2 linked regions of the Homo sapiens genome follow. The protein of the gene in region 1 purifies or fractionates together with the protein of each later gene. This does not show direct contact. Each region holds a gene or a part of one and is shown on either strand. Other genes may lie near its edges.

Region 1 (5,332 bases):
GAGTGCAGTGGCGCGATCTTGGCTCACTGCAGTCTCCGCCTTCCAGGTTCAACTGATTCTTCTGCCTCAGCCTCCCCAGTAGCTGGGATTACAGGCACATGCCACCACACCTGGCTAATGTTTATATTTTTAGTAGAGATGGGGTTTCACCATATCAGCCAGGCTGGTCTCAAACTCTTGACCTCAAGTGATCCACCTGCCTCGGCCTCTCAAAGTGCTGGGATTACAGGCGTGAGCCACTGTGCCTGGCCTGAAAATGGTTTTTGGGTTGTTTTTTTTTTTTTGAGACAGTCTCACTCTGTCGCCCAGGCTGGAGTGCAGTGGTACAATCTCGACTTACTGCAACCTCCGACCCCCAGGTTCAAGCGATTCTTGTGTCTTAGCCTCCTGAGCAGCTGGAATTACAGGTGCTCAGCACCACGCCCAGCTAATTTTTTTATCTTTAGTAGAGATGGGGTTTCGCCGTTTTGGCCAGGCTGGTCTCGAACTCCTGACCTCAGGTGATCTATTCACCTCAGCCTCCCAAAGAGCTGGGATTATAGGCATGAGTCACAGCGCCCTGCCTAAAAGTGTTGTTGTGGTTTTTTTTGCCAAATTTCAAAGCCTAGTTTTCTCATAAACATCACTGCCATCTTTTTAAGTACATTGTTTTTTGTTTGTTGTTTTGTTTTGTTTTGTTTTGTTTTTCAGGCATTTGGACATTAGTATAGATGCATTGGGTAAATTAAAAATTATTGGCCAGGCACGGTGGCTCCCACTTTGGGAGGCTGAAGTGGACAGATCGATTGAGTTCAGGAGTTTGAGACCAGCCTGGACAACATGGCAAAACCCCGTCTCTACAAAAAAATTAAAAATTAGCCAGATGAGGGCCAGGAGCGGTGGCTCACGCCTGTAATCCCAGCACTTTGGGAGGCTGAAGCGGGCAGATCACTTGAGGTCAGGAGATCAAGACCATCCTGGCCAACATGGTGAAATCCCATCTCTACTAAAAATACAAAAATTAGCTGGGCGTGGTGTCTGGTGTCTGTAATCCCAGCTACTTGGGAGGCTGAGGCACGAGAATCATTTGAACCCGGAGGTGGAGGTTGCAGTGAGCCAAGATCGCACCACTGCACTCCAGCCTGGGTGACAGAATAAGACTCTGTCTAAAAAAAAAAAAAAAACTATTTTACCTCAGTTTAACAAAAGGAAAAAAATATTAGAAACCGATTAGGCTATTCATTTAGTTCAACATACTTATGTATTTTCAGTATGTACTAAAGTACTTGTGTAGTTTCTGGAGAGAAGTTTGGAAGTTTCTACTTGTTCTTGATTTCTAAACCAACTTTGGTCATCTCATTTCATTTCTTTAGAGTAGAAGGTATATTTTCCCTTTCTTCACATGTTTACCTTTTTAGGAATTTTTGTTAACATTGAAGTAATTATTAAATATCAGGGATGCCTACAAAAAAATAATGATCAGGCCGGGTGCAGTGGCTCACACCTGTAATCCCAGCACTTTGGGAGGCCAAGGTAGGCAGATCACCTGAGGTCAGGAGTTCAAGACCAGCCTGGCCAACATGGTGAAACCTGTCTCTACTAAAAATAGAAAAATCAGCCAGGCTTGGTGGCAGATTCCTGTAATCCCAGCTACTCTGGAGCCTGAGGCAGGAGAATCGCTTGAACCCAGGAGGTAGAGGTTGCAGTGAGCTGAGATCGCGCCACTGCACTCCAGCGAGGGCGACAGAGCGAGACTCGATGTCAAAAAAAAAAAAAAATTTATGATCAAATCTTTTAGTGCCTAGTAAAATGATATAAGAAATGTGCCTGGAAATATTCTGCAGTTAAAATTCATAATATTTAATAAATATTCAATGTTTTGTGTTTTAATAAGTTCGTCAGACCTTAGAACTGAGGGAAATTTTGCCAACTTAAAATTCTAATTTCTGTCTCTCTGTACTTTAATTTTCAGCTCGAAGACGCGACGTCCATTTGTCGAAAGAACAGGAGAGCCGCCTACCCTCTCACTGGCTGAAAAGCAAAGGGGCCCACACCACCATGGCAGATGCCCTCTGGCGCCTTCGAGATTTGATGCTCCGGGACACCCTCAACATTCGCCAAGCATACAACCTAGAAAATGTTTAATCACATCATTACGTTTCTTTTATATAGAAGCATAAAGAGTTGTGGATCAGTAGCCATTTTAGTTACTGGGGGTGGGGGGAAGGAACAAAGGAGGATAATTTTTATTGCATTTTACTGTACATCACAAGGCCATTTTTATATACGGACACTTTTAATAAGCTATTTCAATTTGTTTGTTATATTAAGTTGACTTTATCAAATACACAAAGATTTTTTTGCATATGTTTCCTTCGTTTAAAACCAGTTTCATAATTGGTTGTATATGTAGACTTGGAGTTTTATCTTTTTACTTGTTGCCATGGAACTGAAACCATTAGAGGTTTTTGTCTTGGCTTGGGGTTTTTGTTTTCTTGGTTTTGGGTTTTTTTATATATATATATAAAAGAACAAAATGAAAAAAAACACACACACACAAGAGTTTACAGATTAGTTTAAATTGATAATGAAATGTGAAGTTTGTCCTAGTTTACATCTTAGAGAGGGGAGTATACTTGTGTTTGTTTCATGTGCCTGAATATCTTAAGCCACTTTCTGCAAAAGCTGTTTCTTACAGATGAAGTGCTTTCTTTGAAAGGTGGTTATTTAGGTTTTAGATGTTTAATAGACACAGCACATTTGCTCTATTAACTCAGAGGCTCACTACAGAAATATGTAATCAGTGCTGTGCATCTGTCTGCAGCTAATGTACCTCCTGGACACCAGGAGGGGAAAAAGCACTTTTTCAATTGTGCTGAGTTAGACATCTGTGAGTTAGACTATGGTGTCAGTGATTTTTGCAGAACACGTGCACAACCCTGAGGTATGTTTAATCTAGGCAGGTACGTTTAAGGATATTTTGATCTATTTATAATGAATTCACAATTTATGCCTATAAATTTCAGATGATTTAAAATTTTAAACCTGTTACATTGAAAAACATTGAAGTTCGTCTTGAAGAAAGCATTAAGGTATGCATGGAGGTGATTTATTTTTAAACATAACACCTAACCTAACATGGGTAAGAGAGTATGGAACTAGATATGAGCTGTATAAGAAGCATAATTGTGAACAAGTAGATTGATTGCCTTCATATACAAGTATGTTTTAGTATTCCTTATTTCCTTATTATCAGATGTATTTTTTCTTTTAAGTTTCAATGTTGTTATAATTCTCAACCAGAAATTTAATACTTTCTAAAATATTTTTTAAATTTAGCTTGTGCTTTTGAATTACAGGAGAAGGGAATCATAATTTAATAAAACGCTTACTAGAAAGACCATTACAGATCCCAAACACTTGGGTTTGGTGACCCTGTCTTTCTTATATGACCCTACAATAAACATTTGAAGGCAGCATAGGATGGCAGACAGTAGGAACATTGTTTCACTTGGCGGCATGTTTTTGAAACCTGCTTTATAGTAACTGGGTGATTGCCATTGTGGTAGAGCTTCCACTGCTGTTTATAATCTGAGAGAGTTAATCTCAGAGGATGCTTTTTTCCTTTTAATCTGCTATGAATCAGTACCCAGATGTTTAATTACTGTACTTATTAAATCATGAGGGCAAAAGAGTGTAGAATGGAAAAAAGTCTCTTGTATCTAGATACTTTAAATATGGGAGGCCCTTTAACTTAATTGCCTTTAGTCAACCACTGGATTTGAATTTGCATCAAGTATTTTAAATAATATTGAATTTAAAAAAATGTATTGCAGTAGTGTGTCAGTACCTTATTGTTAAAGTGAGTCAGATAAATCTTCAATTCCTGGCTATTTGGGCAATTGAATCATCATGGACTGTATAATGCAATCAGATTATTTTGTTTCTAGACATCCTTGAATTACACCAAAGAACATGAAATTTAGTTGTGGTTAAATTATTTATTTATTTCATGCATTCATTTTATTTCCCTTAAGGTCTGGATGAGACTTCTTTGGGGAGCCTCTAAAAAAATTTTTCACTGGGGGCCACGTGGGTCATTAGAAGCCAGAGCTCTCCTCCAGGCTCCTTCCCAGTGCCTAGAGGTGCTATAGGAAACATAGATCCAGCCAGGGGCTTCCCTAAAGCAGTGCAGCACCGGCCCAGGGCATCACTAGACAGGCCCTAATTAAGTTTTTTTTAAAAAGCCTGTGTATTTATTTTAGAATCATGTTTTTCTGTATATTAACTTGGGGGATATCGTTAATATTTAGGATATAAGATTTGAGGTCAGCCATCTTCAAAAAAGAAAAAAAAATTGACTCAAGAAAGTACAAGTAAACTATACACCTTTTTTTCATAAGTTTTAGGAACTGTAGTAATGTGGCTTAGAAAGTATAATGGCCTAAATGTTTTCAAAATGTAAGTTCCTGTGGAGAAGAATTGTTTATATTGCAAACGGGGGGACTGAGGGGAACCTGTAGGTTTAAAACAGTATGTTTGTCAGCCAACTGATTTAAAAGGCCTTTAACTGTTTTGGTTGTTGTTTTTTTTTTAAGCCACTCTCCCCTTCCTATGAGGAAGAATTGAGAGGGGCACCTATTTCTGTAAAATCCCCAAATTGGTGTTGATGATTTTGAGCTTGAATGTTTTCATACCTGATTAAAACTTGGTTTATTCTAATTTCTGTATCATATCATCTGAGGTTTACGTGGTAACTAGTCTTATAACATGTATGTATCTTTTTTTTGTTGTTCATCTAAAGCTTTTTAATCCAAATAAATACAGAGTTTGCAAAGTGATTTGGATTAACCAGGTTTGGTTGTTCTGTTAAAGTGGTGTCAGATGTTTCAAGCAGATTTAACTCCTGCAAGCCCTGATTTCATGCTGACAAGGTTGTATGTGACTGCCAATTTAAGAGAACAAAGCTCCACAGATGGAGATGAAAGTCAGTGTCCAGACCTCTGGTTCAGGGCTCGGGCTGCATTAACACAGAGCCAAATGTAGTCAGACTGCAGACTGAAGTGCCCCACGCCACGCCTCAGGCTGGCAGTCAAGGAATTCCTACATGTCCTCAGCATGGGCAGAAATGCAGGTTGAAATTAAAATTGGAGAATTACTGAGGGCGGAAAGTGAGGAAAGCATGTAAGCAGTATAGCCCACTTCAAATAGCTTGTCTGTGGCCAGAAGAAACAGGTGGCCCAGGTGTCTTTAACATCTTTATAAACTCTTAAAACATGACCATGCTTTTAATAGAAAGTGTTGGTAAAAGCAACCAACTGTTTTCCTCTAATATCACTTTGCAAATCCCTGT
Region 2 (7,285 bases), on another chromosome or scaffold:
ATCATATACTCTGTGGCCTTTTGTGTCTGACTTCTCACTCAGCATAATGTTTTCTTTCTTTTTGTTTTTTTATTGTTTTGTTTTTTGTTTTGTTTTGTTTTGGAGACAGAGTCTCACTCTGTCACCCAGGCTGGAGTGCAGTGGCATGATCTTGTCTCACTGGAACCTCCGCCTCCTGGGTTTATGGGATTCTCCTGCCTCAGCCTCCCAAGTAGCTGGGATTACAGGCGCGCGACACCACGCCTGGCTTACTTTTGTATTTTTTTAGTCGGGGGGGGGGGGGGGTTTGCCATGTTGGCCAGGCTGGTCTCAAACTCCTGACCTCAGCCGATCCACCCACCTTAGCCTCCCAAAGTGCTGGGATTACAGGCGTGAGCCACCGTGCCTAGCCTGTTTTTGTTGTTGTTGTCGTTTTTTGAGACAGTCTTACTCTGTCGCCCAGGCTGGAGTGCCGTGGCATGATCTCGGCTCCCAATCCAGGAGGTGGTCCTGGGTTCAAACGATTCTCCTGCCTCAGCCTCCGAGTAACTGGGATTACAGGCGTGCACCACCATGCCTGGCTAATTTTTGTATTTTTAGTAGAGACGGGGTTTCACCATGTTGGCCAGGCTGGTCTTGAACTCCTGACTTCAAGTGATCCGCCTGCCTTGGCCTCCCAAAGTGGTGGGATTATAGGCGTGAGCCGCCGCGCCCGGCCAGGGCTCCTAGTCTGAGAAGTAAGTGTCAACCCTGCTCAGACTCCCTGGGAAGGAGGGTCTTGCTGTCCCGTTCCCCCGCCCTCTGTGTCCCGGCCTGTCCCAGGCCCTGCACTGTCTCCTTCTTCTTCCCATCTTGCCTGCTTGCTTTTAAACTTAAGCATGGGTTATTTTCCCCTTTGTTATTACTCTGCCTCAGAAACCCCAGCAGGGAAGTCTTGGTCGCACAGGCATTCTCTAGGATTCGTTTCGTGTGTGCTTTTTAACATCAGGGTACCATGGTGTCCGGGCCTCGGGTAGGATTTTTGCTGCCCCTTCACGAGTGTCTGGCTCTGTGTCCAGTAAGCTTTAGGAAAAACCGCTGCCGCCACTGCCTCCTCCCAAGCTGCACCCACCCCCCCGCCCCATCCAGCCTGCACCTTCCTTCTGCTAAAGAAAACTTGGGGTGGAGCAGCAGGAAGACAGGCATGAGAAATCACCCGAATAACTGGGTTCATTCTACTGGCGATTCCTTGATGGAATGGTGTGCGGCCATCTTGTAAGCTGTGATATTTAAAGAACCTTTAAAGACATGAAGAATTCCTCCGAAATACCACATGACCCCCATTTGGGAAGAGGAGAAAATTTGTACGCATGGAGGGAGGGGAAACTGGAAAGACGGGAATTAATCCTCTAAAACATTAGTGGGGTGGTCCCTGGGTGGTGACAGGTGATTTTTAACTTTATTTTTTCTGTACTTTTCTGTTTCCTGCAATGGTCAGTCATTGCTCTGGCAATCGGAAAAATACCCTTATTATTGTTATTATTTTGAGACGGAGTTTCGCTCTGTCACCCAAGCTTTAGTGCAGTGGCGCGATCTCGGCTCACTGCAACCTCCGCCTCCCGGGTTCACGCCATCCTCCTGCCTCAGCCTCCCGAGTAGGTGGGACTACAGGCGCCCGCCGCCACCACGCCCGGCTAATTTTTTGTATTTTTAGTAGAGACGGGGTTTCACCGTGTTAGCCAGGATGGTCTCGATCTCCTGACCTCGTGATCCGCCAGCCTCGGCCTCCCAAAGTGCTGGGATTACAGGCCTGAGCCACCGTGCCCGGCCAAATACCCATATTATTAAGAGAAATGTTTACAAAAGGTTAGGACGAAGCCACCTTGGCTGCGGGAGAGAGGAATTGACAGCCATGATTGTTGGTGCGCACTGCGGCCGCCAGGGGGTGCTGGGTGCACGCAGCACAGAGACTGCAGCCTCCTCCAGTCGCCTCCCAGGGCCCTCAGCAGCTAAGTGTGCAGGAGAGGGTTGCAGACGCCAGGGTCCGTGTGTGACCTGGCTGCTGGAAACAGCGCCACTGAAAAATCAACAGGAGACTCCCCAGCCCTCCAGCCCCCCAGCTCATTGTAGCCTTCAAAGACCACTGGCCCCAAAACTACCCGATTCAAGGTATTTTCAGTATTTGGCCCCACCGGCCCCGCCTCTCACGTGTCTGAAAACAGCTCCTGTCGTCTTGCTCTTCCCTCAGATGCTTCTGATGAGCAGAATTCACAGTCCTCGATGGAACATTCGATGAACAGCTCAGAGAAAGTAGATCGGCAGCCGTCTGGAGACTCGGGTCTGGCCGCAGAGACGTCTGCAATCTCTCAGGTACCTCGCTCGAGGTCTCAGAGGGGCAGCCAGATCGGCCGGGAGCCCATTGGGTTGTCGGGGGTACGTTGAAAGGTGTTTCGTCATTGTGTTTTGTTGTTTTGTCGTTGGACCATTGGAACTGTCATTTGTCCATTGGGCTATGTCCATGAACACAGTCCTGGGCTCTGCCTTGGGCTCTGGGGCCGAGGGATAATGAGACTTGTGGCCTCTGCCCTCAAGGAGCCTCTGGGTCGGAGGAGGATGAAGGGACCTTGAACCCAGCCTCGGCTGCTACGTTTTGTCTGTTCAGGTTCACACAGGCATTGCCTCATCTCAGTGATCCCCAGATCGGTGACCTTTAGAGCTGGGAAGACAAGACTTCAGAAACCTAAGTGGTGGGGCCTCCGACGGAGCGGTGCTGCTGGCCCCACTTGCACTGCATGGGCCCCTCTCCAGGGCATCACTCTGTGTTGGAATCTGGTCTGAATGAGTCAGCACAGGTGCAGTGGGGCCCGGTGGTTAGGAGCAAACCTCCCAGAGTCGGGCCCAAGTTTGAATCCCAGCTCCCAAAATGGGATCACGGAACTGTCTTAGGGCCACCGTGAGGATTCGATGGGAGAACTTGGGTAAAACACTTAGCATGGAGCGGACACAAGATGCAGAGGTGTCATTGGCCATGACCACTATTAGGATTTTTCACTGTAAATCCTCTAGACTTTTTTTCCTTCGAGACAGAGTCTCACTTTGTCACCCAGGCTGGAGTGCAGTGGCATGATCCCGGCTCACTCCAACCTCCACCTCCTGGATTCAAGCAATTCTCCTGCCTCAGCCTCCCAAGTAGGTGGGATTACAGGTGCCTACCACTCTGCCTGGCTGATTTTTGTATTTTTAGTAGAGATGGGTTTCACCATGTTGGCCAGGCTGGTCTCAAATTCCTGACCTCAAATGATCCACTCCCTCAGCCTCTCAAAGTGCTGGGATTACAGGCGTGAGCCACTGCGCCTGGCAACTTCAAAATCTTTAAACCCTTTGATTGGCAGGTCCCTTTCCAGAACCTCACCCCATGGAACCCCCTCCACATGCCCTAGCTCTAAGGGGCTGCTTAGGGAAATCTGGGGTCTTGTCTGAGACAGACTAGGGCGCAGCCATCTAGAAGAGCATGGTTGTGCCTTCCAGGTTCTGATAAACATTCTTGCAGCGTGCAGTGAGAAAAGCAAGCTGCAGATCCGCAGGCGTAGCATGAGCCCATCTGGTTAAAAACAGTAGAAACCAAAGCCTGGTGATTTATATTAAGACCAAAGTTGTCGGCTGGGATCTCTGGGCCTCTTGATCTCAGAGAAGAAAAGCTCAGCTTGAAACTTTGATCCATACCCTGAGAGTATCCAATGCTCCCCCGCAGTACCTGGAAATGCCAGGAGTCCCCCATTCTCACATCGCCCCCACTACCCCACACTCTTGCTTCCAGGAGACCCAGACCTAAAATTGGGCCTCTTCCACCATTTTCACAGGCACACCGACACACATATTGTCCACAGAGCTAGGTGTGTGAGTGACATGGAGGATGTACTCCAGTAAAGCAGACAGCCTGACATTTCAAGCAATACGTTTTTGGCCGGGTGCAGTGGCTCACATTTGTAAGCCCAGCACTTTGGGAGGCTGAGGCAGGTGGATCACTTGAGGCCAGGAGTTCGAGACCAGCCTGGGCAACATAGCAAGACCCCGTCTCTCCAACAAAAAGAAAAAGAAAATTAGCCAGGCATGGTGGTGCGCTCCTATAGTCCCAGCTACTCTGGAGGCTGAGGCGGGAGGATTGCTTGAGCCTGAGAGTTCAAGGCTGCAGTGGGCTATGATCCTACCATTGCCCTCCAGCCTGGGTGACAGAGCAAGACCCTGTCTCAAAAAAATAAATACAGAAAAAAGGAGAGAAAGGACAGAAAGGTAGCCTTCCTGACTCCCTGCGATCCCTGCTCCCAGGGTCCCCCAGAAGGGGCTCATGTCACTGTCTCTGCAAGTCCATCGCATGTCCTACTCGAGGCCTCTCCTCTGCAACATTTATCTCTGAGAACCCACCATGGACCAGGGGCTATACCTAATCCCTGCCTGCCACAGTGGGGCTGACAATGGGCTCAGGATAAGCAGACACAAGTAGGTCACAGAGTCCCACTAAGTGCCGTGAGAGAGTGAAACAGGGTGACGTGAAGAAGCAGAACAGGCCATGGGTAGAGGGTGCTGTGGCTGGCGTCAGCAGGGAGGGGCTGGCTGTGAGCCGGACATGAAGGGGGCCCAGGCTGGGACGGTGAGCTCTCCAGGCAGGGGCAGACCAAGGTGCAGAGACCTCAAGACAGGAGCCAGCTTGAAGAACGAAAGAGAGGCCAGGGTGGCCGGGGAGGCCAGAACCTGGTGGGTGAGGAAGAGAATGGTCTGATGAGGGAAGAAGTGGGCCAGGCTTGTCACTAGGGCCTTCTTGGTCCTGGTGAGGAACTGGGTTTGTTCAGAAGTCAGTAGGAAAGTTGTGGAATGCTTTGTATTTGTAAGTTGTGGTTTCTATTGGAGGAAGGTTGCTGGGGCCATCCTGTTGGCCACAAGCAGGCTGCTCCATCAGCCAGGCCAGAGGCCGGGTTGGAGGGGGGGTGCGGGCGGAGAGGTGGCTTCAGGGGGTGTCCAGGCCTGGGTCTTTCTCCCAGGCTGATGGGGAGCACCAGTTAGGATGGCTGCGGTCAGGAGTTTGGTCTCAGGTGACAGGTTAGGTTTGAGAGGCCCAAGACAATTGTGTGATGGATGAGTGAGTGTTAAACCTTTTCTGGTGTCCTGGGTTTCATGGGAATTCAGTGACAACTACAGACCCTTTCCCCCAGAATAACACACACACATATGTGTATACCCAGCAAATGCTGAGAGTCCAGCCCAGACCAGGCACTGTGCCCAGCCCTGCAGGAGCAGGAGTCTACATGGCAGAGTGGGTCTGGGCCTCTGGGAGATGGCCTAGAACTTGCAGAGATTGCCAGGCATCATGGCTCACACCTGTAATCCAAGCAGTTTGGGAGGCTGAGGCAGGAGGATCCCTTGAGCCCGGGAGTTCAAGACCAGCCTGGGCAGCATAGCAAGACCCCATCTCTACAAAAAACTTAAAAAAAAAAAATCATCCGGGCATGGTGGCACATGCATATAGTCCCAGCTACTCAGGAGGCTGAGGCAGGGGGATCCTCTGAGACCAGGAAGTCGAGGCTGCAGTGAGCTATGATGACCACTACACCCCAGCCTGAGCAGCAAAGCAAGACTCTGTCTCTAAAAAAAATTATAAAAAGAACTTGGAAAAGCTGGTGCGGTGGCTCACGCCTGTAATCCTAGCACTCTGGGAAGGTGAGGCGGGCAGATCACCTGAGGTCAGGAGTTTGAGACCAGCCTGGCCAACATGGTGAAACATGGAGACATGGTGAAACCCTGTCTCTACCAAAAATACAAAAAATTAGCCAGGCATGGTGGTGTGCACCTGTAATCCCAGCACTCTGGGAGGCCGAGGTGGGCAGATAACCTGAGGTCAGGAGTTTGAGACCAGCCTGGCCCACATGGTGAAACCCCGTCTCTACTAAAAATACAAAAATTAGCCGGGCATGGTGGCGCGTGCCTGTAATCACAGCTACTTGGGAGGCTGAGGCAGGAGAATCACTTGAACCCAGGAGGCGGAGGTTGCAGTGAGCCAAGATTGCCCCACTGCACTCCAGCCTGGCAACAGAGTGAGACTCCATCTCAACAACAAAAACAAGAACTTGGAAAGGTGAACTTGAAACAATAATCACAAGTAATCACCCTAGCAATGAATCATAGATGGGAAGATTGATAACAGCAACTTCTGGTCCAGTCTGAATGAGTGGGGAGAGCCTAGGGTCCAAGGCAGCAGTGTAGGAAATGCTCCCGAGTTACCAGCCATTGGCATGTGATAGGGTCAGGCAGGGGCCAGGGGACACCGCGCTCCATAGCTCCAGGAAGAGTTTGGGTGTGAGGGTCTCCATAGGTCCTCAAACTCTCTGGAGTCCACGCTTGGGCCTCGGGTCTGGAACTGCTGGTCTGAACCACAAAGCCGCCCCCGCTCGGTTCCTTCCTTGGCTGACCTTCGGCCTCACGCCTGGCCTAACTTGCTCTCCTGGCCCATTAACCTGTGTTCCCCTTTTCTCCTCTCCCCAAGGATTTGGAAGGAGTGCCACCCTCTAAAAAGATGAAACTGGAGGCCTCTCAACAAAACTCCGAAGAGATGTAGACGATGCTTTAAAGCCTCCGATCCATGTTCCATGGAAGGTACATCAGCAATTAATTCTAGAGCAACTTTGCCCCAGCGATTCCTCTTGGGTGCGAACAGAACTACTAACGTTTCAAGTTTACCAAGTGCAAATCCAAGAAGACCCAGAACGGCGTCACTTCTCAGACACTGAAGAACTCTGCTGTGAAGCAAAACACTCAAACCTTTAAGGGACTGTCCTTGGGGAGGCAGGCGGGGCTGACAGCTCAGGAGTGTCTGCACACTGTCTCGGAAGCCAGGATTCCATTTGTGTTGCTGCTGTATTTTCCCCCCACTTCTCTATGTAACGATATAAGCTATCGGAGGGTGGTACCGATCAGGAACGCTTTTTGGCGGGGCTTTCCACTGTTCAACCGATTCCTTCCGCTTTCTTTTTTTGTGCCTTGTGCCCTTGAGGTGACCTCTGGCATGTATCCTGGTGGTTCTTACATCCCCCTCTGCAAAGTGCCCTCTTGGTTTGGTTCGGGCGGCGGCTGCCACCCTACTCACCGCTCTCCTCCCTGCCCCAGGACTTCATCGGAGCAGGCAGGGTGGAGCGAAGGAGCTCCTTAGCCCACCTGGTTTGCAGGTGCAGGGGGACCTTAGGCACGCCCCAAGCACCAGGCACCAGGGCCCAAGGACGCGCAGGTGTTGGGGCACAGTCCCCAAGGGCTCGGCCCCTTGGATCAGGCTGGGCACTCG

What was found.
Region 2: the proteins of PBRM1 (region 1) and BCL7A purify together in Homo sapiens (affinity purification with mass spectrometry; 4 studies listed by BioGRID and IntAct, with this or other methods). This does not show direct contact.

The regions. Positions count from the first base shown.
Region 1 is NC_000003.12:52,544,855-52,550,186, reverse strand, and holds the end of PBRM1 (protein polybromo-1), read left to right. Parts: intron 1-1,951; coding exon 1,952-2,124; 3' UTR 2,125-4,820; downstream 4,821-5,332. UniProt on the Homo sapiens protein: Involved in transcriptional activation and repression of select genes by chromatin remodeling (alteration of DNA-nucleosome topology). Required for the stability of the SWI/SNF chromatin remodeling complex SWI/SNF-B (PBAF).
Region 2 is NC_000012.12:122,052,599-122,059,883, forward strand, and holds part of BCL7A (B-cell CLL/lymphoma 7 protein family member A), read left to right. Parts: intron 1-2,206; coding exon 2,207-2,328; coding exon of another isoform or gene 2,329-2,391; intron 2,392-6,493; coding exon 6,494-6,565; 3' UTR 6,566-7,285.